Linked DNA regions of Homo sapiens. The protein of the gene in region 4 interacts with the protein of the main gene of each other region in a pairwise test. Each region holds a gene or a part of one and is shown on either strand. Other genes may lie near its edges.

The links.
Region 1: the proteins of WFS1 (region 4) and RNF183 interact in binary tests that used the Homo sapiens proteins (3 or more experiments, as listed by UniProt).
Region 2: the proteins of WFS1 (region 4) and PELO interact in binary tests that used the Homo sapiens proteins (3 or more experiments, as listed by UniProt).
Region 3: the proteins of WFS1 (region 4) and CMSS1 interact in binary tests that used the Homo sapiens proteins (3 or more experiments, as listed by UniProt).

Annotation. Positions count from the first base shown.
Region 1 is NC_000009.12:113,296,578-113,300,397, reverse strand, and holds the end of RNF183 (E3 ubiquitin-protein ligase RNF183), read left to right. Parts: exon of another isoform or gene 1-542; intron 543-622; 5' UTR 623-826; exon of another isoform or gene 827-2,176; 5' UTR 2,177-2,213; coding exon 2,214-2,792; 3' UTR 2,793-3,305; downstream 3,306-3,820. UniProt on the Homo sapiens protein: Acts as an E3 ubiquitin ligase catalyzing the covalent attachment of ubiquitin moieties onto substrate proteins. Triggers apoptosis in response to prolonged ER stress by mediating the polyubiquitination and subsequent proteasomal degradation of BCL2L1.
Region 2 is NC_000005.10:52,784,039-52,790,928, reverse strand, and holds the start of PELO (protein pelota homolog), read right to left. Parts: upstream 3,014-6,890; 5' UTR 2,576-3,013; coding exon of another isoform or gene 2,515-2,575; intron 1-2,514. Other genes in the region: ITGA1 (integrin alpha-1 precursor), read right to left, coding at 2,515-2,575. UniProt on the Homo sapiens protein: Component of the Pelota-HBS1L complex, a complex that recognizes stalled ribosomes and triggers the No-Go Decay (NGD) pathway.
Region 3 is NC_000003.12:100,156,829-100,163,864, reverse strand, and holds part of CMSS1 (protein CMSS1), read right to left. Parts: intron 3,681-7,036; exon of another isoform or gene 3,436-3,680; coding exon 3,364-3,435; exon of another isoform or gene 3,161-3,363; intron 1,563-3,160; coding exon 1,433-1,562; intron 1-1,432.
Region 4 is NC_000004.12:6,272,850-6,279,885, reverse strand, and holds part of WFS1 (wolframin), read right to left. Parts: intron 2,436-7,036; 5' UTR 2,431-2,435; coding exon 2,199-2,430; intron 1-2,198. UniProt on the Homo sapiens protein: Participates in the regulation of cellular Ca(2+) homeostasis, at least partly, by modulating the filling state of the endoplasmic reticulum Ca(2+) store.

The DNA.
Region 1 (3,820 bases), on a different chromosome or scaffold from region 4:
AAATGTCATGAGGTCAAAGACAATGTCTATTTTGTTCACCATAATACCTTGCACAGCACCTGGGCTAGAGTAAGCACTCAATAATGTCCGAGTGGATGAATGGACTGCAGAATAAAGCACTGGTGCAGAGCCCTGCTAAACTACCCTAGTTTCGCTTAGGGCTCCATCTCCCTCTGCATATCTTCATTTCCTCCTTCCCTGTTTGGAGCAGTGCCAGAGGTCTAGAAGAAAACCAGGAAGCCACAGGTCCGAGAGTATAAGCAGGTTTTGCTTCAGACATCGGCTCAGTCGGGGTAGATGATGTCATATCAGGGGCTCTAGGGAGACTCCCTTCCCCCAGATCCCCTCTTCCACAGTTCCTGGATTTCTACCATGAGTCTTCTGGCCGTGAAGGATTCCTGATCACATGCAAACACTTATTATCTAGCTAGTAACACGCACTGAGTAGGGGGACGGCATGGATGCAGCCTTCTGTCTTTACGAAAACCATGAGTCTGAAGACATGGGTCCCATGTCACCATTAACTAGCTGGGTGACTTTGGGTGAGTCACTTCTTGTCTCTCATCTGCAAAGTGAGTAGTTCAGATGGAGAATTGGTTTTTAAACTTTTTCTTTTCCCCAGCAGATCAACTCTTCAAATTATTCGAATGACCCATATGAGAAACAGAGAAAAGCCAAGTATTTCTGGTTGAAACGGAGAAGCTGGGCTGGAGTGCGCCTCCCTCCAACTCCCCGCTTTAACTCCCTAAGGTTGGTGGGATGGCCAGCTCTAAGATCTCAGAAGGCTGACCAGCTGTGTGCTAAGAACAAAGCAGAAGGCAGCGAGGTTTGTACACGCTGATTGCAGTTACTTAGGCACATTAAAAGATCAGCGGGTGACTGGACTGAATCTGATAGTCGGAGCTCTTAAGCTTCGAAGTAGGTGACTTTCACAGCAACCAAAGTGCTGAGCAGGCAGCCCCTTTGTGCAAGGAGGAGGTTCCAGCCACTTTCGAAGAGAAATGAGGGCCCCAGAGAGAGGAAGCCCAGAAGACTCAGTTACCCTCTTCACATCTACAAAGACGAAATTGCCACCCTACCTTTCCAGACCAGGGACTCCAGGTGTTGAAGGGACTGCCCACAATCTCACAGGTGCTTGGCTTCCAGGTTCAATTAGTTGCCATGCCCTGGGGGGAACTCAGGTCCCCCATCTTCCTCCCCACCCCACCCCCCAGGAAGCTCTCTGGCCTTGGCTCCAAGCAGGTGTGCTCAAGAGGCTGCCGACTGGGCCACCTGGCAGCCCCAGGTGCTGCGTGCATGCTGCCATGGAGACAGGCCCCTGGGTTGGTGGCAAGAAGGCAGTCTCCCAAAGCTTTGCCGATTCAGGGGAGGGAGCAACTGGAGCCTCAGGCCCTCCAGAGTAGTCTGCCTGACCACCCTGGAGCCCACAGAAGCCCAGGTGCGTGCCCTGAAGGTTTCCCAGGACAAAGGGAGGGAGGAGGAGCCAGGGTAGGCAGAGGATGGGGAAGAGGCTCTGGAAGGGGAAGAGGCTCTGGAAGGGGAAGAGGCTCTGGAAGGGCTGATCTGGGGACTGGGGCAGGGAAGCTTCTGCAAGGCTTCCAGGTAAGGAGAAAGGCCTTTCCAGGGGCTTCCTTGCCAGGCCAAGGACTGGGTGAGTAGGATGTGGAGGGTTGGCCCTCTAGCTCAAGGGGAGGAGGGAAAGAGGGCTGGCATTTGTCCCCATAGGAGGGACAGACCAGGGAATTCACAAAACCCATCTCTGCGCTAGTCAGGGATTTGAGGTAGCAGGGAAGGAAACATTTGTCCTGTAGCAAAACCCGCAGACTGCAGCTTACCCCCAGCTCCCTGGATTCAGGGCAGCCAAGGGCACAGACAATGACCATAAGGAGCATTTGCGTCCAGCTCCAAAGCCCAGGGCGACATCTGCTCCAATGCCGGCTCTCTTGGGGGCTCTTGGTAGGGGTGGCCCAGGCCTTCACCTTGACAGAGGGGAGGCTGTAGGAGCATTTGACTCAACTCGATGGGTTAGGAACTGGTGATCAAGAACAAAACGCTTTTGAACCTAAGTAAAACGTGGTGATTACACCTTTCAACACCCACAGAACACTTTGCCCCAGGCCAAGCACAAGGATGGGACTTCATGGCTGTTCCTTTGCTCCTTTCCCCCTTCTGCCAGGACGTCTCCCGCGAAGCCTCCCCGTGTGTGGCTGAGGATGGCTGAGCAGCAGGGCCGGGAGCTTGAGGCTGAGTGCCCCGTCTGCTGGAACCCCTTCAACAACACGTTCCATACCCCCAAAATGCTGGATTGCTGCCACTCCTTCTGCGTGGAATGTCTGGCCCACCTCAGCCTTGTGACTCCAGCCCGGCGCCGCCTGCTGTGCCCACTCTGTCGCCAGCCCACAGTGCTGGCCTCAGGGCAGCCTGTCACTGACTTGCCCACGGACACTGCCATGCTCGCCCTGCTCCGCCTGGAGCCCCACCATGTCATCCTGGAAGGCCATCAGCTGTGCCTCAAGGACCAGCCCAAGAGCCGCTACTTCCTGCGCCAGCCTCAAGTCTACACGCTGGACCTTGGCCCCCAGCCTGGGGGCCAGACTGGGCCGCCCCCAGACACGGCCTCTGCCACCGTGTCTACGCCCATCCTCATCCCCAGCCACCACTCTTTGAGGGAGTGTTTCCGCAACCCTCAGTTCCGCATCTTTGCCTACCTGATGGCCGTCATCCTCAGTGTCACTCTGTTGCTCATATTCTCCATCTTTTGGACCAAGCAGTTCCTTTGGGGTGTGGGGTGAGTGCTGTTCCCAGACAAGAAACCAAACCTTTTTCGGTTGCTGCTGGGTATGGTGACTACGGAGCCTCATTTGGTATTGTCTTCCTTTGTAGTGTTGTTTATTTTACAATCCAGGGATTGTTCAGGCCATGTGTTTGCTTCTGGGAACAATTTTAAAAAAAAACAAAAAAACGAAAAGCTTGAAGGACTGGGAGATGTGGAGCGACCTCCGGGTGTGAGTGTGGCGTCATGGAAGGGCAGAGAAGCGGTTCTGACCACAGAGCTCCACAGCAAGTTGTGCCAAAGGGCTGCACAGTGGTATCCAGGAACCTGACTAGCCCAAATAGCAAGTTGCATTTCTCACTGGAGCTGCTTCAAAATCAGTGCATATTTTTTTGAGTTGCTCTTTTACTATGGGTTGCTAAAAAAAAAAAAAAAATTGGGAAGTGAGCTTCAATTCTGTGGGTAAATGTGTGTTTGTTTCTCTTTGAATGTCTTGCCACTGGTTGCAGTAAAAGTGTTCTGTATTCATTAATTCATTCACTTATTCATTCCACGACCATTTACTGGGCTGGTGCTGAGTGCCAGAACTGAGGGAAGAGAAGAGTAGGATTATCCAGGGGTGGCAGATGGCCCTCACTAGCAGGAAGGGGTGTGCTCATTCAGCTGCTGCTTTTATGAGACCACCTCTTGCCAGCATGTAGTTCATGGAGTGTTAGGTGAAATCTAAAGGTGAACGATGTTAGATCAGTGGACTAGGGGAAGTCTGGGATTTGGAGGAATAGGTCTTTCTTCCTCCCGGCAGATACAGAGGCCCTGATTAGAATGGACATGGGGTAGAGTTCTGATTCCCTTCCCCCAAGCTCCATAATTCCAGCTTCAAGAAGATGGAAACGCTGGACACAGGCAAAAGTTTAACTCCCATCCCAGGCCATGGGAGGCAGCGGGGGAACCCTAGCTTTCACTTTACATGATAGAATCCAGGAACCAATCAGACAGAATTTGGGGGCTCAGGCTGTTGCTTGGTAAGTTGCAACCTTGCAGTGTCTA
Region 2 (6,890 bases), on a different chromosome or scaffold from region 4:
GGTCATATCTTCAGTGGCAAAATGAACATGAGGATTATGGAGAAAGTAAAGAAAAGTGATTGGCTATAATGGACAGTTTATGCTTATGGGTTGTGGTAGGCAGAATAATGGTCTCCCAAAGATATCCATGACCTAATGCCTGGAACCTGTGAATATGTTATCTTAGATGGTAAAAGGGACTTGGAAGATGTAATTAAATTAAAGATCTTGAGATGAGGAGATTATTCTGGTAGGCACATTGTAATTACAAGGATCCTTAGGAAGGTAGTAGGGTCAGAGTCTGAGAAGGAGATGTGATGATAAAGCAGAGTCATGGGGGAAGATCTGAAGATTCTACCCTGCTCGGTTGAAGATGGAGAAAGGGGCCACAGGCCAAGAATGCAGGTGGTGGCCAGAGGCTGGTGAAAACAGGGAAACTGATTTTCCCCTAGAACCTCCAGAAGAAATGCAGCCCTGGTGACATCTTGATTCTAGCCCAGTGATACTTCTGACCTACAGAACTGTACAATAGTAAATTTATGTTGTTTTAAGCTGGTGATCTATGGCAAGTTGTTACAACAGCAATAAGAAACTGACATAGGAGTAGTAGGAGATAGAGAGAGGGTGTTGGATTAGGGCAGTCAGTTGAGAATTTTGGATTTTATCTTAAAGGCAACAAAGAACCACCAAAGATTTTTGACTAAAAACAGATATAGTAAAAATGATGTATTAGGAGGGTAGACTGGAAGTTGGGTTCAAATTGAAGACAGAAAGATAAGCTCTACAGTAGTGTGCATGGATAAGTATGGTGATGAGTCCCCAGGTTACAAACGGACTCTGAATTGATGAGAAGTTTCCAAATCTGAAAGAGATTGCTAAAGAAGAGCCTACAGAATATAATGACTGATGGGAAAGCAGTCCAATTTCAGATCCCTCATGTGTTGCGAAATGGGCATAAATATAGTGCACACAAGGTTTCTAAATATTTTAAGTCTCTTCCTGGATTCACCAATGTATATTTCACCAACATATATATGAAATTGTAACTTGTTAAACTTCTCTGTTACTTCAAGTTTCACTCTTGTCTTTTTAGAGGATACGCAAACCTCATTTCATCATTTCTACTCTAGAGACTGCTTATTTGGTAGAATGAAAAAGTACAACTTGGATAGTAAACTACTGTATTCAGATTTTGCACAAAAACAACAAAATACAATCTAAAAAAATTTGAGTTGGAGAAGAATCATAGGTCAAATATGTGTAAAAAGTAGTGGCAGTAGCTGGTAAGTTAAACCACTCACCGGCTATAATGCTGTTCAGCAGTTACCACTGTTTGGATTATTGGACATTTCCTGAGTAGTGGGAAATGTTTGGATGAAAAGCCAGTAGCTAATTATTAACTCTCTTTACATTACCTCCCTTCTGAAAAAAGCTCTGCTTGCTGATAATCAACTTCTAAATCATCTTCATAAAACTTAACAATGCTTGGCCATCTAAGGCAGGTCTAAACTAGCTGGCTCTACCCTGTTTTTAGTGGTAAAAATGCTAAATTAACTAGTACTAATAACCATGCCAGCAGTAAAAACACTGAACAATTGAATATCAATGATATGTTAAAGCCAGCTGTTAATTAACCCATTAATAAGGTGATTTTCTTTCACACAGAGATTCTATCGATACACTTTCCCCCCACCTTCTTCCATTTTTCACCATTTCAACTTTCCCCCACCCCAATCAGTAACTGGTAAAAAAGATCTGACCATGAGTTCATTATTGGGAAAATCTTACAAAATGCTATATTTCAAGCTTTTTCTAAATTGGATACAACTTTGCATTTCCACTATGTTTTTAAGTCCCCTCCTTAAAAATACACATTTATGTACAAATAACAATACTATATTTTGCATCTTAAAAGTAGACTGCCCTGTGATATTTACAGAGAAAATGTTCACCATTCCTTTCTACGTTTCAAAATATCCCTCCTCTTGGGTGCTGACATAGAAACATCATTTTGGAACAAGTGGCAGTTTCGTCTTGCATCCCTGCCTTTTCTTGTTCTGCATGGGAAAAAAGCCTAAATAGTAGACAGCAAGAAAATTCAATAATGTCCACTCTGGAACAACCCGAGGGTAGGAATTTTGCATATGTATCAGGCGCCCTATAAGCATCACCCTCCCATCCCATGCCATAAAAAAGGGTGGAGGGGAGGAAATATTCAGCAAAGTCCTAATATACAATGTGTATTGTAAAAACAACTTTAATTTTAAAAGTGAATTCTACCTTCTAAGGTTTTCAGTGCTGCCTCACTCCTACTCCTAGGGTGAAGGACTTTGGAGAGACACGAAAACTAATTCATATCAAAACCAGAACGCGAAACTCCTGCCTGCCCCGTAGCCTGGCCTGAGTACCTGGAATGCCCGAAAGTGGATGGGCGCTCTCTCTTCCTATCTGGCCCATGGCTCTGAGGACCTCCCTCCCCGCTCCAAGCCCCAAGCCCGCGAGCAGGAGATGCTCAGAGAAAAGCGAGTCGCTCACCAGTGAGGAGCCAGCAGCAGGCGACAGCGACCCCTGGGCGGGCGCGGGGCCGAGGGGCCATGGCCGGAGCAGCCTCAGCGCCAGGGGGCCGCGCTGGTTCGCAGGGCAGGACCGGGCGCGGGAGCTGCGCTCTCTGGCTGGGCCACTTATCCCGCTGCCGCGGTTCCCAGTCCTCTGCCCCAGTGGCAGCGGCGCCCAGGAGCGGGAGAGGAGTGATTTCCTGTGTTTTCGTCGAATTCCTCTAAATGCGCTCCACGCTTTTCACATCCCAGACGGATTGCCACATCGCCCGCCCCTTCGCGCTCTTGGTCTCTGAAATCTCACTGGCAGCTTCCCAGGCTCTGTCCGAGACATGGACAAATAAAGCCAGCTTCGCGGGTCCGTGTTTAGGCTAAAGTCCACGGGCTGTAGAAGCAAACCTTAAAGGGACATCTGCCTTTCATTGAGAGGGTGATCTCGTTCTCCGGGCCAAATCCCCTAAGGTGGTAGGAAGGCGGGTAAGGGCTGGACCTTCGGGAGGGTGTTGCCAGCCCAGTGGCTCCGCCTTCACACCCCTTACTTCTCCCGGCCCGGGCAGGGAGGGCGCTTTGACAGTGCCTGGGCGCCCTTAACGGGAGGCAGCTTTCCCGGGTCCATTGCGCAGAGGGATTAGGCCGTCTGTGAAAATGCGAGGATCTGGAATCCCCCCTTCCATCCCCTGCGGACACTTGAAATTCACCGTGAAGTCGTTTTGCACGAAAGGGGGCGTCCCCACCACCCCGACAGGCTCCACTGAGGGCTTTGCTTTCGCTTATGGGGGGGTGGGGGGGTTGCTTCGTTTATGGTAATTCGTGGTTAAAGGGTGGTTGCAGATAAGCTTTTCTTTGAGATAACTAGGATAAGGGGAGAAAAGGAGAAGCAAGACGGAGGAAAAACAGTAAGAGGGAGAGCGAGAAGGGAAGAGAGGAAGAAAAGCAGCCTCCTTGGAAATGGAATGTGTGTGGGCTATTTTGTTTAAGTGAATTAGGATGTTTGTACGCTGGTAATTGAATCTAATAAAGAACTCGGGGCACTACTTTATTTTTTTCTTGCTTGAAACTTTCACGAGTGAAAATGCATTAAGAGTCCAGAAGTGCTTAGGAACTTGCAATGCTTCCCTTTCCTGGTGAGTTGAACAACCTCTCTGAGTCAAAAGCCATATTCACCCTAGCTTCAACCAATGCTGGCTATTTTCAAAATAGCTGTGTCTTAGCGGTTTTGAGAATTTCAAAGACAGAAAGAATAAGTGGATTTGTGTTTAGAGGAATCTGAGGGAAACAGTTCAATTCAATTCTTCAACTCAACAACTAATTGAGCATCTCTAGCAGAACTAGGGCTAGGCAGGACAAGAGTGCCACCCAAAGGAGGGTTCGTTGAGCAGAACGCAACACAGGTAGCACAGAACAGGTAACACGAGGGACAGGAAGGAAGAAGCCCACAGGGTTCACTGGATACATTGCCAGATAGAGGATCACAGCAACTAAAAGCTGGAGAAGACAAAAGTTGAAGAAGTTTAAGGAGCGTCAAAAATGGGGTGGGCAGACCCAAGGAGGTTGAAGGCCATCAGATCTCAGTATGTTGACCCATTAATCAAGAAATTCCTTTTCTATTATGTATCTGAACTGATTCACTATTTAGTAAATACATTAAAAATCTCGTTCTCCCGTTTTTAGTTTTTATAATGTCATTTCTCAGTTCTGTCTTCAAATTTACACAAATGAGTCTCTAGAAAAATTGTATTATGTTGGGTCACAGTTCAATCCCATTGGACTTTACTTAAGTTCCTTTGTTTGTGTTCAATGCTCTCATACCCTGCCAAGGAATTCATTTCCTGTGTATATCTCGTTTCCCTGTTGGTAGTATCAGTTATGTCTTATGCCTCTCAGTATGACTCTCTGTGCTTTGAACAGTAACCAATAGATATTGATTAATTCGTAGACATTTAAAAATCATAGTAAGTACTTTCCCAATGATATTTCTCCAAATTGCTTAGTTTTCAAAAACATATAATAGTGTGTCTATATATACACAATCATGTGTATGTATGTATGTGTACATATATATGTACAGCATATACATACATATGCAAATACATATATGGCATTTTAGCAAATTGCAATATATTTCATTAGAAAAAACAAAAAGAAATTGTAAAATATTGAAATAAAGTAGGGTTAACATATAATATGTTCAAGTTTACAATTACTGGGAAATTTACCTTTCTTCTGGGGGCTAATATATAATTTCAATTTTAATATTTTTATTTCCTCTAGGACTTACAAATTATTGGTGATAACCATCACTAACAGTGATATTGTTACAATTAATTTTCACAAGTTACAAATTTTATGTTTACATGTTTACATATTTATGAATCTTTTATATGTCTAGTCAATACAAATGTAGAGACTGAGAGATAACTATGGTTAGAGAATTAATTTTAGAATCAGTGCTTATTTTCTGAACTTCAATAAACCCAAATACAAATAAATGTCAAGCCGGTTATTTTCTTAACCAATTTTATTCTGACTGACAGAAAGACATGTCATTGAGTAAAGATTTAGAGAAGACAGAAACTTGCCCAGAGTCACAAACTAGTTATTGATATGAGACACTTGATGACAAATGTTTCAGCTCTAGACTTTATACTACATACTTTTCTATTTTAAATGAGACTTGATTTGATCAGATCTCTTTAAGGGTTTGGAAGCATGAGTAGGAGCATGAACCTTATTGTGAACTGCACACGCTTCTTATGAGAATCTAATGCCTGATGATCTGTCACTGTCTCCCATCATCCCCAGATGAAAACGTCTAGTTGCAGGAAAACAGGCTGAGGGCTCCCACTGATTCTACATTATGGTGAGTTTTATAATTACTTCATTATATATTATAACATAATTATAATGGGAATAAAGTGCACAATGAATGTAATGTGTTTGAATCATCTTGAAACCGTTTCCCCTACCCCTGGTCTGTGGAAAAAATGCCTTCTATGAAACCGGTCTCTCTGCCAAAACGGTTGGGGATGGCTGCACTGAAAGATTAGAGACTGAACTGATTAAGAATTTGGAAAGTGGATGTCTATGAAATGAGGCAAGAGTAATTGAGATTATTAACCAATAATCTCAAAAAGAAAAACATATACTTAAAACCAAAGTATTCTTCTTGGAGTTAATCTAATATACTGAGTAAAGTAACTAGAGTAAGTAAGGTTCTGGAGTTACGCTGCTTGGACTCAAGTCCTGGAACCACAATATAGTAGCTGTGTGATTTGGGAAACGTCATCAAGTTTATCTAAGCCTCAGTTTTCTCAAATGTAAAGTGGGAATGAAAATACTGTACTACTTCTGGTCTGAGAATTGCTGTGGGGATTAAATGAACCGAGCCTCTGAGCATTTAGCACAATGCCTGGATTAAAGTAAGTGCTCGGTTAGTATGAATCATTCTTCTCTGTAAATAGAAGAATTGGTATTAAACAGACCATGTAAACAGGGCAGGCTCTGCGTGTGGTAGACCCTGTAGGAAGTGGTGAAATTTGATGGCCATCAGAAGAGGAACTTTAATGTCCGCCTAAAAATATCTCCATCAACTCCTATTATTATTTCTGGAATCCTCGCTTTAAAAATATTTACCTTGGATTAGGGAATTATCTTGAAGATAGTTCTATAAAATGGGTATGCATGAAGACATCAGAACCCATTATAACGTTCACATGAATTTGCTTTTCAAATTGGCTGGCCGTCAGAGGTTTTTTTTTTTTTTTTTTTTTTTTAATTTTTTTACAAGAGAAGAACATTCCGCTAAGAGGTTGGGGGAATAGAAGAGGTTCTAGAACTCCGTGTCTAATGTATGCCAGGGTTCTTTAGCAGTAAGATTATAGGTTCTCAAAGCTACAGGATAAATAAGGTACTCCCACCTGGGTAGTGGGGGTGGTGCTGATTTTACTCAAAAATAAATAATTTAAAAATTGTTGTTTGCTAAAATAACAGATTTTTATAAGAAATATTTTTAAATCATGTTTTCTTTTTAAAAGTCAAATATGAGATTTTAAATACATTTTAAGGTAGCATCAAAGTGTGGTTTTACCCCAACCCCATCCCCTCCACTCTCAGGTGTTAGGGGTAGGTGGAAGTGTACAGAACTGCTTCCGTTTTTACAAAGATTTTATGAAGATTTGGATTTTTAAGTTTTAGTATGTAAGCACTTAGGGGAATATACCCCAAAACAGTGGGGCTAACTCACAAAGCTAACTCATATGGAAAACTTAGTCTAGTTCAATAATTTTTAATTTTCTGGCATATATTGGGCTCCAGGGCTATGTTCTGCAGAGGCAAAAATGGATACAACAGTTGTTA
Region 3 (7,036 bases), on a different chromosome or scaffold from region 4:
CAATATTAGATATGCCTAGTAGTCTATAAATAGCTCATCTGAAGCAGTTGTACCCAAACTTTTATGGTTTGATTTTATGACAACATCTATTTCCTCCCATCCCTGCCTAAAAGAGTTAAAGGATGCATTATAATTTTGAAATTAATTAAAATTAGTTGTTTAAGCTGGGTATGGTGGCACGTGGCTATATTCCCAGCTACTCGGGAGGCTGAGATGAGAGGATCCACTTAAGCCCAGGAGTTCGAGGCTGCAGTGAACTACGATGGTGCCACTGCACTCCAGCCTGGGCGACACAACAAGACACTGTCTCTAAAATAAATAAATAAATATTTTTAAAAAATTAGCTGTTTAAATTTTGTAATATCTTTTAGCTTAATTATAAATACACTAAGGCAGAGGATCTAAAATTCTAGTAGGCCTAAGAATCCCTTGAGGCAAAGTGTCAGCCTCGCAAAACATACAGAATTTTGTTCCTACCTTTTGACAGTTTGCTTGAAAGAGTCTGGCCTGCAACCTAAAATACTATTCTAAAAACCATGACTAGAAATCCATAATAAGAGCAACAACAAAACTAAATTGCTTATTAAGGCTAAAGTTCTTGTCTATAATAGTTGAGTAAATCAGTGTTTCACATCCATACTTTTAAATGTGTACTTCAACTTCTATCCTCATGATGAATTCCTACTCATTGAATAGTTTGTTAAAAATGCACACCCAACAATTAACCTTTTGAATAAAAAAATACAATCACAAATCTTAATATTAGATTTGACAAATACTGTTTAGCATCCAGTAAGGATATAATCTATCAGTTAAAACTATTTGATATAATCTATCAGTTAAAACTATTAGATTGAGGAAAAGAAGTATTATGTTTCTTTTTTTTCTTTGAGATGGAGTCTCGCTCTGTCCCCCAGGCTGGAGTGCAATGGCGTCATCTTGGCTCACTGTAACCTCGGCCTCCCAGATTCAAGTGATTCTTCTGCCTCAGCCTCCCAAGTAGGTGGGATTACAGGCGTGTGCTACCACACCCAGCTAATTTTTGTATTTTTTAGTAGAGATGGGGTTTCACTATGTTGGCCAGTCTGGTCTTGAACTCTTGACCTCAAGTGATCCACCCGTCTCAGCCTCCCAGAGTGCTGGGATTATAGGCGTGAGCCACTGTGCCTGGCCTGAAAGTATGTCTCTTTAAACAATTATTATTATTATTCTTATTTTTAATAGCGATGAGGTCTCACTGTATCGCCCAGGCTGGTTTCAAACACCTGGGCTCAAGCGATCCTCTAGCCTCAGTCTCCCAAAGTGCTGGGATTATAGGCATGAGCCACCATGCCCGCTGGAAAATGTGTTAATTGACTGCCTGAGACACCTAACCATAACAGATACTTATGTTTTGCTCCTTGTCTTTAGGAAAATTGAAGCTTGGCTATACCTGGCAGGTTCAGTTCTTCTAATTCAATCACCAAGCGTCTGCTGCTATAATAGTCCTTCATCAGCTTCTGTAGGTCTTCAGGTAACCCTGGTTTTGGTTCTGATTTTGCAAGAACATCAGTAATTTTCTTCTAAGATATGAGAAAGAAGAAAAATGGGACGACATATTTTAAAATGGCATTTGGTTGGAATAGGTTAGTTCCTCTGGCATTTAAACGGCACATAGCTTTTGGTGTTAGCCAAGTGTGAATGTGGGTTTTAATAAATACATTTGAGAAAATTCACTAAATACTTCTTGGACATAACTATTGCTTTGAAAAATGAAAAAATGATCTAGAAAGCTCCCTGTAACTCTTGGTCTATGACTTCCAAGATAACTAAATTTTTGCAGGCATCTCCATACTGGGGTATTATTTTCTGTTAAAAGTAAAGAAATCTCATTGCTATGGAGAGCTCTCTTTTAGCCCTAGATGATTTATATTCCTGTAGGATTAGAATTTTGAGAATTTCTTGCCCAATCTGGTTTTTGAGGTGCTGAGTCTTAGTTTGGATTTCTGTCATTAGTGTAAAACCCGCAGTAGGAATCTGAGCATAGGGGCCTACTGAGAAGGGGACTTAACACCCTCGATTCTCAGGTCTTGGATAACTGATGGTATTAAAGTGGCCCTATGCAAAGTAGAAAAAATATTACAGGAAATACTTTCCAACATCGATTTTGATTTGGACTCATTTGTGTAGCATGTATTGAATGCTGCAGTAGTAGAAACCCACAATCATTCATTTATTTCCATCATAAGCTTCCCTTCTCACTTCCTTCTAATGTTCCACCAAAGATCCAGAAGGAGCATTCCCCACCCCTGACCCCAGATTTTCCCCCTCCTTCTACAATATCCTCATTTCTAGACACTTGCCAAGAATGGTCAAGCCTCTGTCAAAGAAATTAACTTTTAAAAATATGTCATCAGTGGGCACATTTTAGTGTGACCTCAGTCAAGACTAAACTATCTAGCTAGAGTTTTGACCTTGAGCCACCAAGAACTTAACACTCCAGAAGGCCATTAGTGTACAAATTATCAAAGCGAAGTTAAAGTCACTTATTTAAGGACTTGCCAAACCTCAGCCAATTTGGCATCTCCCATTTTCCTATTTGGCCATTTGTAAGAAAAGAAAACATATGCACACACACTCTCAGTTTTCTAAAAGCTTGCTGTTAAGTAATAGGTTTGAGTCCATCTTCTTTCCTCTAATCCCAATCGTATTTCCTCGGCTGACTTCAGCAGCAGACCCCTCTTGGCAGGGAGAGAATTACACTGCTGTTTTCACAACTGTGGGAGAAGGTCATAGCTAACCATACTTTCTCCAAGGCTGAGCCATAAAAAAGTTTGTATATGAGAAAGAGTCTTTCCTGTGCTCACCAGCAAATATCAAAATGCAAGGTAGGGGAGCTTTTTTGACCTAATTTATGGTTCCAAATTAGTCAGAAGTGCCTCATACTACCTTCATCTGCTTATTATTTTCTTTTTATTCATACTTTAAGGTATAAGGTCTTAAAATCCGGAATGAATAGAAAAAGGAGGTTGGTATATTTCTTTTCATGGACAGAGCCAGAAGGGCCGGGGGAGGATAGCTCTGGACTCCTTCTAGAATTAGAAATCTATGTCTGACATCTGACCACACTGAAAACATAGGGTGGGTAACAAAGATATTTGGCACTCCACAGGACTGAAATAGGAGTCAGAAGAATTTATTCTTAGCTCCAACAGAAACACTTATTAGTAGTGACCTTAGGAAAGTCACCAAACCTCAAAGAATCTTACAATGTCTGCATCTCTTAGGTGGGGATTACAATAGTTGCCTCAAGAAAGTATGATATATAAAAATGTGATGGAAACCATGTGGGGCCATACAAATTTAAGAAATTATTAATATTACCTTTCTTCTTTTCCTGGTCTTGGTGGTATTCTCTTTTCTTTCCTTTGGTTGTATCAAAAAACATTCTTTAGGCTATTAAGAAATACAAATGAGAACATTTTAATCTTTTCATGATAAAGTGTCAATTAGTGGCATGAACCCCAAAGTACTTTCTGCCATGCATGTATTCTTCAGAGTATCTTGGTAATATTCTACAGAAAGAGAGATGCTGGAAGATCTACCGTAGGTTACTATGCAGCGGTTGGGCTGAGAGAATTTGAGAAAGTCAGAAAGCGCAGATGACTTAAGACTGGAGAATCTTTGAGCAAGATCAAATTGTGAGTGAGTGTATATGTGTGCTTGGTGTGGAAGTGCAGTGTATTGGAGATTGAAGACAGTGGCTGAGTTTGTATAATACAGCAGAAATCGATGTGATTAAAATTAAGATGTGGTAAGACAGTCTTTGACTAGAGTGACTAAGGTTTTCCATGAACTAGCTGTGTGTGAGCCTACATTTCCAAGTCACTGGTTTATTGTTTTGTATTATACATTCCTTTCCTCTTTTCAATAAGCATAGAAAATCCAAAGTAAGATATATTAACTTACGTTTTTATAAACCAGCTGCATCAAATGCCTTTGCTATAATGACTACAAAATGAATGTCTTTGCTACTAGTCTGATAACCGTCTCAGCACCACAGTATCTAGAGTAATCTGTTTTGCCTGTTGCCTTGACCCCTGAGTACCCCAGTTTAGTACTATTTTTACCCTGAGGGCTTTTTTCTAATGTAGAAAAACAGGAAATTTGGACTAAGACCTTGATTTATAAAATAGAATGCCCCAGATTCCATATTTATTAATCATAAGCAGGAGTATAAAATGTTTCCTGTGCTGGACCTTTTATGCAACATTGTCAAACAAGTTGCCAAGTAAGATATAAAATGTAAGTGAAAACTTATTCTGAGTTTTCCTTGATTAACTTTCCATTCCAACCAGAGAATACTCAGTTTAAACTGATAAGCTACTAACTAAAGCAATCTTGTCTCCACTGGCTCTGCTAAAATGATTACAGATGAATCTTTCTATGAAAGCTTGCAGACAGCCTGCAGATTGAGAATGTCTATGGCCTGAAGTCAGAGAGAAAGATATAATACTACATAATTTCTTCAAGACATGGGGCCAAAGACCCGCAGTTTCAAGATTCTCTTTTAGTTATTACAGAAATAGATTTAAAAAGTTCAGGATTAAAGTGACATGGGAAATCTTGAAATTTTAGTTTCCTCTAAGATAAAACAAAAAACCTGCAAAGAGCAATTGCATCATAGCTAAAGAAAAGAGAGATATGGCTTCTTTTATTTAGAAAGTTAAACTGTCTTGTGGATGTAGATACATGCCAATTTGATGCTGGTACATGCCAATTAGAGACTGTGCCAAGGCCACTAATATGTCACAGAAGCTGCCAGATGGCCATAAGAGTCCAATTACAAACCAGGCCAGTGTTCAGCTCATGTTCCTAAGGCAAAGGCCGGGATATGATTAGCAGATCCCTTAAACTATACTGCATTATCTCTACCAGTATCAAGGTTTTTGGGAAGCGTATTTAGAAACCTGTTACAATCTATTAACGTATGGAGGTGTTCTCGAGGAATATGTTCAGTGTACTGGTTGCATTTGTGCTAGGTTTACAAAGCCAATTAATTAAAACATGACATAAATTAAATCTAGAAATGAGCTCAATTGTAAGAATATGGACTCTTTAATTCTGGGAGAAAAAATAAAAATGTAATTCTGAATCATGCACAGGAAAACGAAACATGCTTGATGAACTGCTTTAGCCATGATATTGCTTCAGTTAAATGATAGGTTCAAATTCTTACATCATCCTAAAGGAAATGCAAAATAATCTTTGGTTTTGGAGACTAGTTACTTTAGCTGGCTGTGGTAGGGTGCCAATGAAGAGGCCAATTTTATGGGGTCAATTTCCATAGAGGTGAGATGACTTTATGGAGAAATCCAAATCCACAGTATTGAAAATTCTTACATTTAGTTAACTGCTTTATGAATGTTGCTGTTTACCCTCAGGGAGACTAGGTAGGAAGATGTGAAAGAATCCGGCCAAGCCACTAAGCATTTCTGGAAACCAATTCCAACACTGTGTGACTTTGACAGTTGATAAGTAATGTCATTTCTTTATATGAAATGTAGCAATTTTAAATATGTAGTCTGAAGAATCACACTCCCCTAAAAAAATGTTGCTTTTAAGGGAAGCAACTAGAGCATATTTTCAATTCCTTAAAGTATCAAAAATTACTTTAAGAATGATTCTCCTGGTTACACATGGCAAATGGACCTCAAAATACCAGTAAACTGAAAATAAAGGGCATTGAAAAGGACCTATTGAGCAGGATCTATATAAAAACCAAGAAACCAGGAGAGAGAACAACAGTAATGGAGAGATTTCAACAACTTTTTGGAAAATGGAAAGTGGCTGGAGCTGGATAGAAGTGACTTGGCACAGAGAGAAAGCTAGCAGCTGGGTTTCAGAAGGGGTGGAAGCTAACAATAAGTAAGTCTTTGACCTGCTCGACTCTGAGAAGGTCCAGTACTTTGGAGGCACAAAGTACTACAGAGAGTAAAGGGTTAAAAAAGAAGAGATTGGCTGAAAGTTTATATTTAGAATGATTAGCTACTCCTGTCCCCCACTAGGTGATATCTCCTACCCTGGTAGCCAAGCAACTATCCCATTACTGCTTCCTTTCACCTTGCCTGTCCTGCCAGCCGACTGGAGATCTATTCTCTGAAGACATCAAGAGGATCAAGGCTGGGCCAGGGGAGAAAGGGCAGAGGCTGAGGCTTGCCTCCATTTCCTGTCCCTATTCCATGCTTACATATTGCAGGCAGGAGACTACTGAATTCCTCTTTGGAAAAATGGAATGGCCTAAAAGAAATACCATCAGAGAGTGACGTTTGGGAGTTCCATAGTAAAAAATCCAGCTTGTTATCCTATCACCCTACCATGAATACACTAATTGACAAACCCAACTCATCACTGTTTCAGTGTATCTCTCTTCAATAAGAATGGATAGCTAAGGTTCCTCAGACATCTAAGGAAAGTCTCCAACACAAGAGCAAATAAATAACAAAAAGAAAAATGAACCTAGAGAAAAGTGGGATGGTACCTCAAAATAATGACAATTCATATCCTCAGAGAGATAAGGGAAGATTTTGCAACCATGAAACAAGAACAAGATGCTGTAAAAATGGGAAAAACAGTTAAGCATTAAAACAAATAAGAAATGTGGAATAAAAATAAACGAGGAAGGCTTGAAGATAAAGTAGAGGCAATGTCCCAGAAAGAGATGAAAAATGAAAAGAAAAAAGTGGTGAGAAAATCAGAGAATCAGCCCAAGAGATTCAATTTTTCAATAAATGATATTATAGAAAAAGAGATCACATAAAACAGTAGGGGGCTTGGCATGGTGTCTCATGTCTGTAACCCTAGTGCTTTGTGGGGCCAAGGTGGGAGGACTGCTTGAGGCCAGGAGTTTGAGACCAGCCCTGGTTACATAGTGAGACCCTGTCTCAACAACAACAACAACAACAAAAAACAGCCAGGCGTGGTGGCTCACACCTGTAATCCCAGCACTTTGGGAGGCCGAGGCAGGTGGATCACGAGGTCAGGAGATTGAGACCAT
Region 4 (7,036 bases):
CCTCAGGGAGGCAACCAGAGAAGGGCAACCCCAAGGCTGCTCTTCTCCTGTTTCCCAAGTGTACAGGCCAAGGAGCAGCTCAGATGGGGCTCCGACGATGCCTCCTCCAGGCAGTCTTCCTGATGCCCTGAAGAGTGACCAGGCCCTCCTGGGGTGCCCCTAGGGGACTGCAATGTGGGTTGTCCCCCGCGCTACATGAGCCCCAGAATGTAGTTCCTTGTTCACTCCTGTCTCCCATATTGCTCAGGGCTCCCGGAGGGCAGGACTGAGCCTTCACTCCTGTCACCAGGGCCTGGCCAGGCACTGATCTAGGGACAGGCCAACCTGCTCTGTGCACTTCTCTGAGCCTGGGACATGGGGATCCCTGGGCGCAGATGACCTGAGGCCCATAGTGAGCACAGGCTCCACGGTATGTTTAAATCTCCCCTCCACCCTTCACCAACCACGGGACGCTGGGTCATCTACTTAAGCCCTCTATCCCTCGGTTTCCCATCTGAAAAACAGGGCAGCAGCAGAGCCTGCCTCCCAGGGCTGTTAAAGAGGCAAGTGGGCTAATGCCCTAAAAAGATGCCTAGCTCGGGGAAGTGTCAGTTAAATAGCTACCCTTGTTGTTACCTATTGGTATTTCAACTGATGCTCACCCACCTATGTTGGCTGGATGGGGGAGCTAAATAACAGATTCTCGCAGCAGCTGCTACTGGCAGGGACCCTGGGCCCTGCCCTCCCTGCGGCCACTGGGCATGCAGGGCCAGGCCTGCTTTGGCCACATCAGTGACCAGTGACTGGGAGACGGGATGCCCACTGCCCCCAGCTGCAGGCCCAGTGGTGGGGACTGGGCTGTCAGGCGGCGCCCAGGGCTTGCTCTTCACCACCCCCACATTGGAGACCGAAGCCAAACAAACCACAGCTGCTTCCTGACTCTTCTTATCTGAAACACACAGTCTTGGACTCTGTCCTTTGCGGGCTGTTCTCATTACCCAGATTGAAACCAAGCTTCCGAGCCCTGGTATCTGTTCCCCTGAAGCCGTGAGGCTGGGCCCAAATCCCGGGGTCAGGCCCTCATCCGCCCAGAGGCCTCCAAAACAAAGCAGAGGAGCACAGTGATCTTTTAAGGAGATGCAAAGACAAACAGGGCCCAGGGCTGCAGTGAGTTTCCAAGGGCACGCCCAGCATAAGTGGTACATGGGAGCCTCAGCGCGCTGCGACCACAGCAGGGAGGCCCCACGGCCCTGCCAGTGGGGTGACTGGGACAAGAAGGAAACCTGGACCACTCGAGCACCTCGTCTCTCACCCGCTGGGTCTCTTGGGCAAGTCACCTAGACTCGGTGTCTCAGTTTCCCCTCTCAGGACTGCCATGAGGAGTCCTGCAGGCACATGGAAAAGGCTGGTGTACACAGCAGGCACTCACCATGGGTCTGGGGCTTCTGCATGGGCAGGAGGGGCAGTGATGAGCTGGGACTGAGCCTCCCTGGCAGCGGCCTCTCTAGCAAAAGTGAAGGCTGACCGAGGCCTGAGTCAGCTGGAGAAGGTGCCCAGGGGCCGGACTCCCCTGGCTCACACCCACCACCCTCACATCACCACCCAGGAACCAACAAGCCTGTCAGCTCTGCCTGTGAACACCAAGGGCCTCAGCTCTGCTTTGAACACCCAGGGCCTCAGTCAGCTCGGCCTGTGAAGACCAAGGGCCTCAGTCAGCTCTGCCTGTGAACACCCAGGGCCCCAGCATCCCGCCTCAGGATGGAGGTGAAGGACGCCCGTCCCTCACAAGTCTCCCTCAGGGAGAGGGGAAACTCAGCACCAAGGGCTTCGCCCGCATGTGGCCTCACTCCCGAGAGTGTGGCTGTCACCTCTGGCCTGCCACCCTAGTTGGTTACAGAGGGCCCGTGAATTTACTCCACATGTTTGGACGCTGTTGCAAATGGAAGCTGTGAAGTGCTGCAGAGGCCCTGGGAAGAGAAGGACTGCAGAGGAGTGGGGGCACCAGCACCACCTCGAGTGGGTGCCACAAAGGTGACAGGTGCAAGGCTCTGAGGAGGTGGGTAGCCCCACTGGATGGACGCCTGTGCACAGCATGGGAGCTGCACAATGCTGAACTGCAGAGGACCTGGCGGGGGGACCCTCCAGGGGTGGCTGAACCCCGTTCCCACCCAGCTATCCCTGAACATCCCCAGCCTGGGCTTCCCAGCCTGCTCCCTTACCGGTGCCGTCTGCTCTTTCCCGGCTCCTGGTATGCTGGGCCTGGGGTTCAGCGGGGGCCGCTGCGTCTCTAACACCAGGGCCAGGGCCAGCCTGGGGTCCGGGTGCTCGGGGCCTTTCGCTCCTCTCCTGCTCCAACGAGGCTGTGGCATTGAGTCGGGAACGCGCCTGGGGCTGCGGTGCTGGCGGGGGCTGTGGGCAGGAGGGGCCCAGCGGAGCAGTGTTGGAGTCCATCCTGCCTGGAAGAAAAGTCAAGGTCAGGCACATCCAGCACCGGCAGAGCCCGCTCTGGCACTTAGTGTCTGCTGGAGACAGAAAAGCAGAGGGAGGCAGGTGGGAGCTGCCAGACACTCCATACAGGATCTCGCTGACACTCAGTACAGTCCCCATGGGCCAGCACCGCTTCCAGGGAGGAAACCATGGGAGGACACTCACCCACGTGACTCTACAGATGGCATGGCACTTACAATCTCAGACCTGCACATGCCGAGGCCTGGAGTCCCTGCCTCACTGGGCATGAGCCACACAACCCTGGCCTTCCCTCATCCAAGAAACGGGGATGATGATAGCAACACCCAGAGCCCACCCATGTGGAGCCTGGCTGCAGGGGGCTGAATTGGGCCCCACATCATGTGCCCACCAATGTCTGTGAATGTGCCCTTATTTGGAAAAACAGGTCTTTGAAGATGTATTTAAGGATCTTGAAATGAGATCAGCCTGGAGTAGGGAAGCCCTGGCTCCAAGAGCTGATGGCCTATAGGAAGAGAAGTGTAACAGAGCCATGCGGAGACGGGTGACAGTGGCCAAGGAGCAGGAGGACCACTGGCCACTGCCAGAAGCTGGACAGAGGCGAGGAACTGAGCCTCCCTCAGAGCCTCCAGGAGGGACCCACCCTGCCCACACCTTGACTTCAGACTTCTGCCTCCAGAACCATCAGAGAACAAACCTCTGTTGTTTTAAGCCACCAAGTTTCCAGTAGTTTCTTACGGAAGCCCTAGAAAACTAATACGCTGGTACTGAGTAAAGTTAAGTAAATATGAGAGGGGAAGGGAGCTGGGGAGGGGAGAAGAGGGCAGGGGAGAGAAGAGAGGGAGCCAAATGGGTGGAGCTGGGATTCATACCCAGATCTGCCGCTCCACAGCCCCCACCCCAGGCCCAAGCCACAGCACCGAAGTCAGAGGACTGATGCCCCAGAAACCAACACAGAGAGTAAAAAGCAAACTAAGGCAAACAGTGCGGTGGGGGCATCAGAAGAGACTAGAGTGAGCAGAGATCCCGTGACCCGTGTCACGCCGGAGCAAGGGCTTTATTTTATTCAACAGAGGCCCTCACATGCTGCTTAGCAACATGGAAAAACACCACCATCCCTGTAATGAAGGACAACCACCGGCCACAGACACAGAGCTGAAAGCGCTGCAGGATCCCGAGCCCCGGACCCGGATGGGCCCTGGATGAGCGGCGTTAGGGGTGGGATGCAAACCCCTGGCACTGCTGGACCTTGAACCTGCTGCTGTGTGAGGCTGTGGAAACTTTTCCTCAGATTCCCAAATGACCCTCCCAAGCTCAGGGCCACAGCCATCCTCTGAGGCACAGAGCAGGGAGAGGCTGGTAACAGAGAGTCTCGCTCCCAGCCCCAAGCTGCCGCAGCGCTGTACTCCTGGCTCTGTGCCCACCAGCTGTGTGGTCCTGAGCAGCCCACATCCCGCTCTGCACCTCAGCCTCCTCATCTGAAAATGGGGACGGGGCAACTGTGAGGACCAGTGAGACCAGACACCATGGGCAGCACGAGGGAGTCCCCTGGCCACCTCTGAACACCCAGCGCTTGGCACTGAGCAGCCAGGTCTGAGTAGGTGCCCAGAGGTCACTTTTGGGGGCAGCTGTGACTGGAAGAGTCAGGAGTGGCCCCAGGCTCCACACACAACAATTTCTGCTCCATTCCCGCTGCAAATGAGTCCTAAAGATCAGACTGGTGTCGCTCAAGAACTCTGCAGATTTCAATCCACACGTTCCTCCCTCAGAGGGACTGAGCCCTTAGTGTAAAACATCCCCCAGGTGCAAACCATGCATGGTCAAGCACACCCCCCCCCCCCACCCCACCCCCGTGCATCCCCCAGGTGCAAACCATGCATGGTCAAGCACCCCCGGGTGCATCCCCCAGGTGCAAACCATGCATGGTCAAGCTTGGGAGCCTGCTCCATCCTGTTTCCAAGTTCCCAGCTCCCGGGAACTGGCACCTTCCACAAAAGCAGCCATTTAACTGCACGTGCAGACCTAAGTGTCCCCTTAGTCAGCTGTGGCAGAGAAATACAGGATCGCACGTAGAACCCACACGCTGTGGGCAAACAGAACCACGGTCCTGCAGGCCACCGGACCACCTGAGATGGTGAAAAGTCAGGTCTTCAAATGACACGTGGCCTTGTCTACCTTCTCTCCCATGGTTCCCACTGCCCCGAAGTCAGGTGTCACTTTCTCAGACAGAGAGAGAGGGCACCTTTACTGAGGGCTGACCTACGCCAGGGCATCTCTGCCATCAAGACCAACGGCTCTGTTCTCTGTACTTGTCTTTTCTCATGAGTTTCTCGTATGGCCCTGGAAGGTAGGTCCTATTGTCGTGAGTTCCTCGCATGGACCTGGAAGGTAGATCCTATTGTCATCCCAGAGTTATAGATGGGGAAATGTTTTATCCTTCAACCTCACCCCACTTCACAGACAGGAACCCAGGTGCAGGGAGGGGAGGGACCTGCTCAAGGTCAAACAGCTCCAGGTACCAGACCTGAAATTCAAATCCAGACCTGCCCAATTCTAATGCTTCTGCAAGCTCATTTCTGAAAAAGACGACTTTGAAATCAGACCGCCATGCCACTGCACCCTCTCTCCCGGGGCCCATTCACTGCAAAACACTGGCTACCCTTCAACATCAGCATACAAATGCTGACCTCCACACTTCTGTTTCTGCAGGGCCCTCTTCCCGGAATGCCTTCTTACCCCCCTCCCCCAGCCTAGACCCTAAGCACCCTTCAAGTCAAGAGCTCCAGCGATACCTCCTTTGTGGGAGCTTCCAAGCTATGTCTGTCCCGAGTCCCTGTCTTCCTCACCTACTCAGGTAAACACACAGCACTCAGGCGATCACCTCTCCATCAGAGCCCTCCCTCTGCTAGAGGTTACAGCTGGAAGCAACATGGTGTGGGGCGTCGGTTACCCTTACTAGTGGCCACATGACCTCACTGTGTCTGTTTCCCCATATGTAAAATGGGGATAGCACCTCCCACATAGGGGTGCTATGGGGATTACGTGTGTGGCAGAAGAGAAAGCAAACTATTGGGCATTAAAAAAAAACTAAGCCGGCCAGGCGCGGTGGCTCACGCCTGTAATCCCAGCACTTTGGGAGGCCGAGGCGGGCAGATCACAAGGTCAGGAGATCAAGACCATCCTGGCTAACACAGTGAAACCCCGTCTCTATTAAAAATACAAAAAAATTAGCCAGGCGTGGTGGCGGGCGCCGATAGTCCCAACTACTGGGGAGGCTGAGGCAGGAGAATGGTGTGAACCCAGGAGATGGAGCTTGCAGTGAGCCGAGATCGCGCCACTGCACTCCAGCCTGGGTGACAAAGCGAGACTCCGTCTCAAAAAAAAGAAAAAAGAAAAAGGAAAAGAAAAACCCTAAGCCATTACTCCCAGGTGCTAAACAAAGGCATGTTCAGTTGGAAAACACTTCATAAAAGGAATTTCAGGAAAACAGATTCTAGCTGGCCTATGTACCATGTATGTCACACTGCAGTTAAAAAAAAACTGTTTAAAGTAAAATCTCTGGTTAGTAAGAATGGATGAATACAGGAGGATTAATTTTCAGGTTCCCTGGGGGTTGGCCAAGTCTGGTTTGGATCAAAGGGCTTGTTATTTCAAAACAAGCACAACAATTCCTGGTCATGGTTGGTCACAGGGACAATGAAGATCAGAAAAGATCTCCCGGTGGAAGGACCTGCTGTCTGGTCCTTCCCTCTCTGAGTCTTCCTGCATGTTACAGCCACTGTGAGCCCTGAGGGCAGGGCTGCAGCTTATCCACTCGGAAGACCGGCTGCCTTGCCAGGAATACGTTAAGCACTTAATGCATGTGGGCAGAAGCCTGAGGCAGCCTGGCCTAGGGCAGGAGCACCATCCAGGCAATAATGCTGTGGGACCTTAGCAAGTCCCTCCCCCAGACCCCAGCATCCAGGCATCTCCAGCTGCATCCACTCTGCACCCTCAGATCCCCACCTGCACGGTGGGGCACTCAGCCCCAACTCCCTACTGGTGACCACAGCAATGGCTTAGAAGCCGTCACTGTGTAAGATCCACAAAACCAAAGTTGCTAGCATTCTTTCCTCATGAGCAATGAGGCATATTTTTATCCCGTCCAAACACAAACACCGGCACCAAGGAGTTCAGCTGAGAGGCCGCCACCTGGAGAGGGCTGCAGGCACCATGCATCCACTCAGACCCGCAGCAGAATGACCACACGTGGCCTTCTGCCCTAAGGGCTCTGGCCCTCACCCAGGCCACCCCCATTCTGTTCTCTCTGGGGGGGCAACCCCATCTCCCAAGCCAGTGCCTCAGAAACAGCCCCTGTGGGAAGCCAAGATGATGTTCACTCTCTCTGATCAGTGCCTCTGCCTCCAGGATGCCAGTCCAGGGGAGTCACTGGAGATGCCCTCGGGGCTCACACACAATGTCCATCATATGGCACTTTCAGCACTGTCCAGAAAGGGGCTGGCTATAAAGCCTACACCCCTCCATATGGTGCAACGCTGTACAGCTGGTAAACGTGACCTCGTACATGAACGTTTTGAGACAAGGAAAAGGT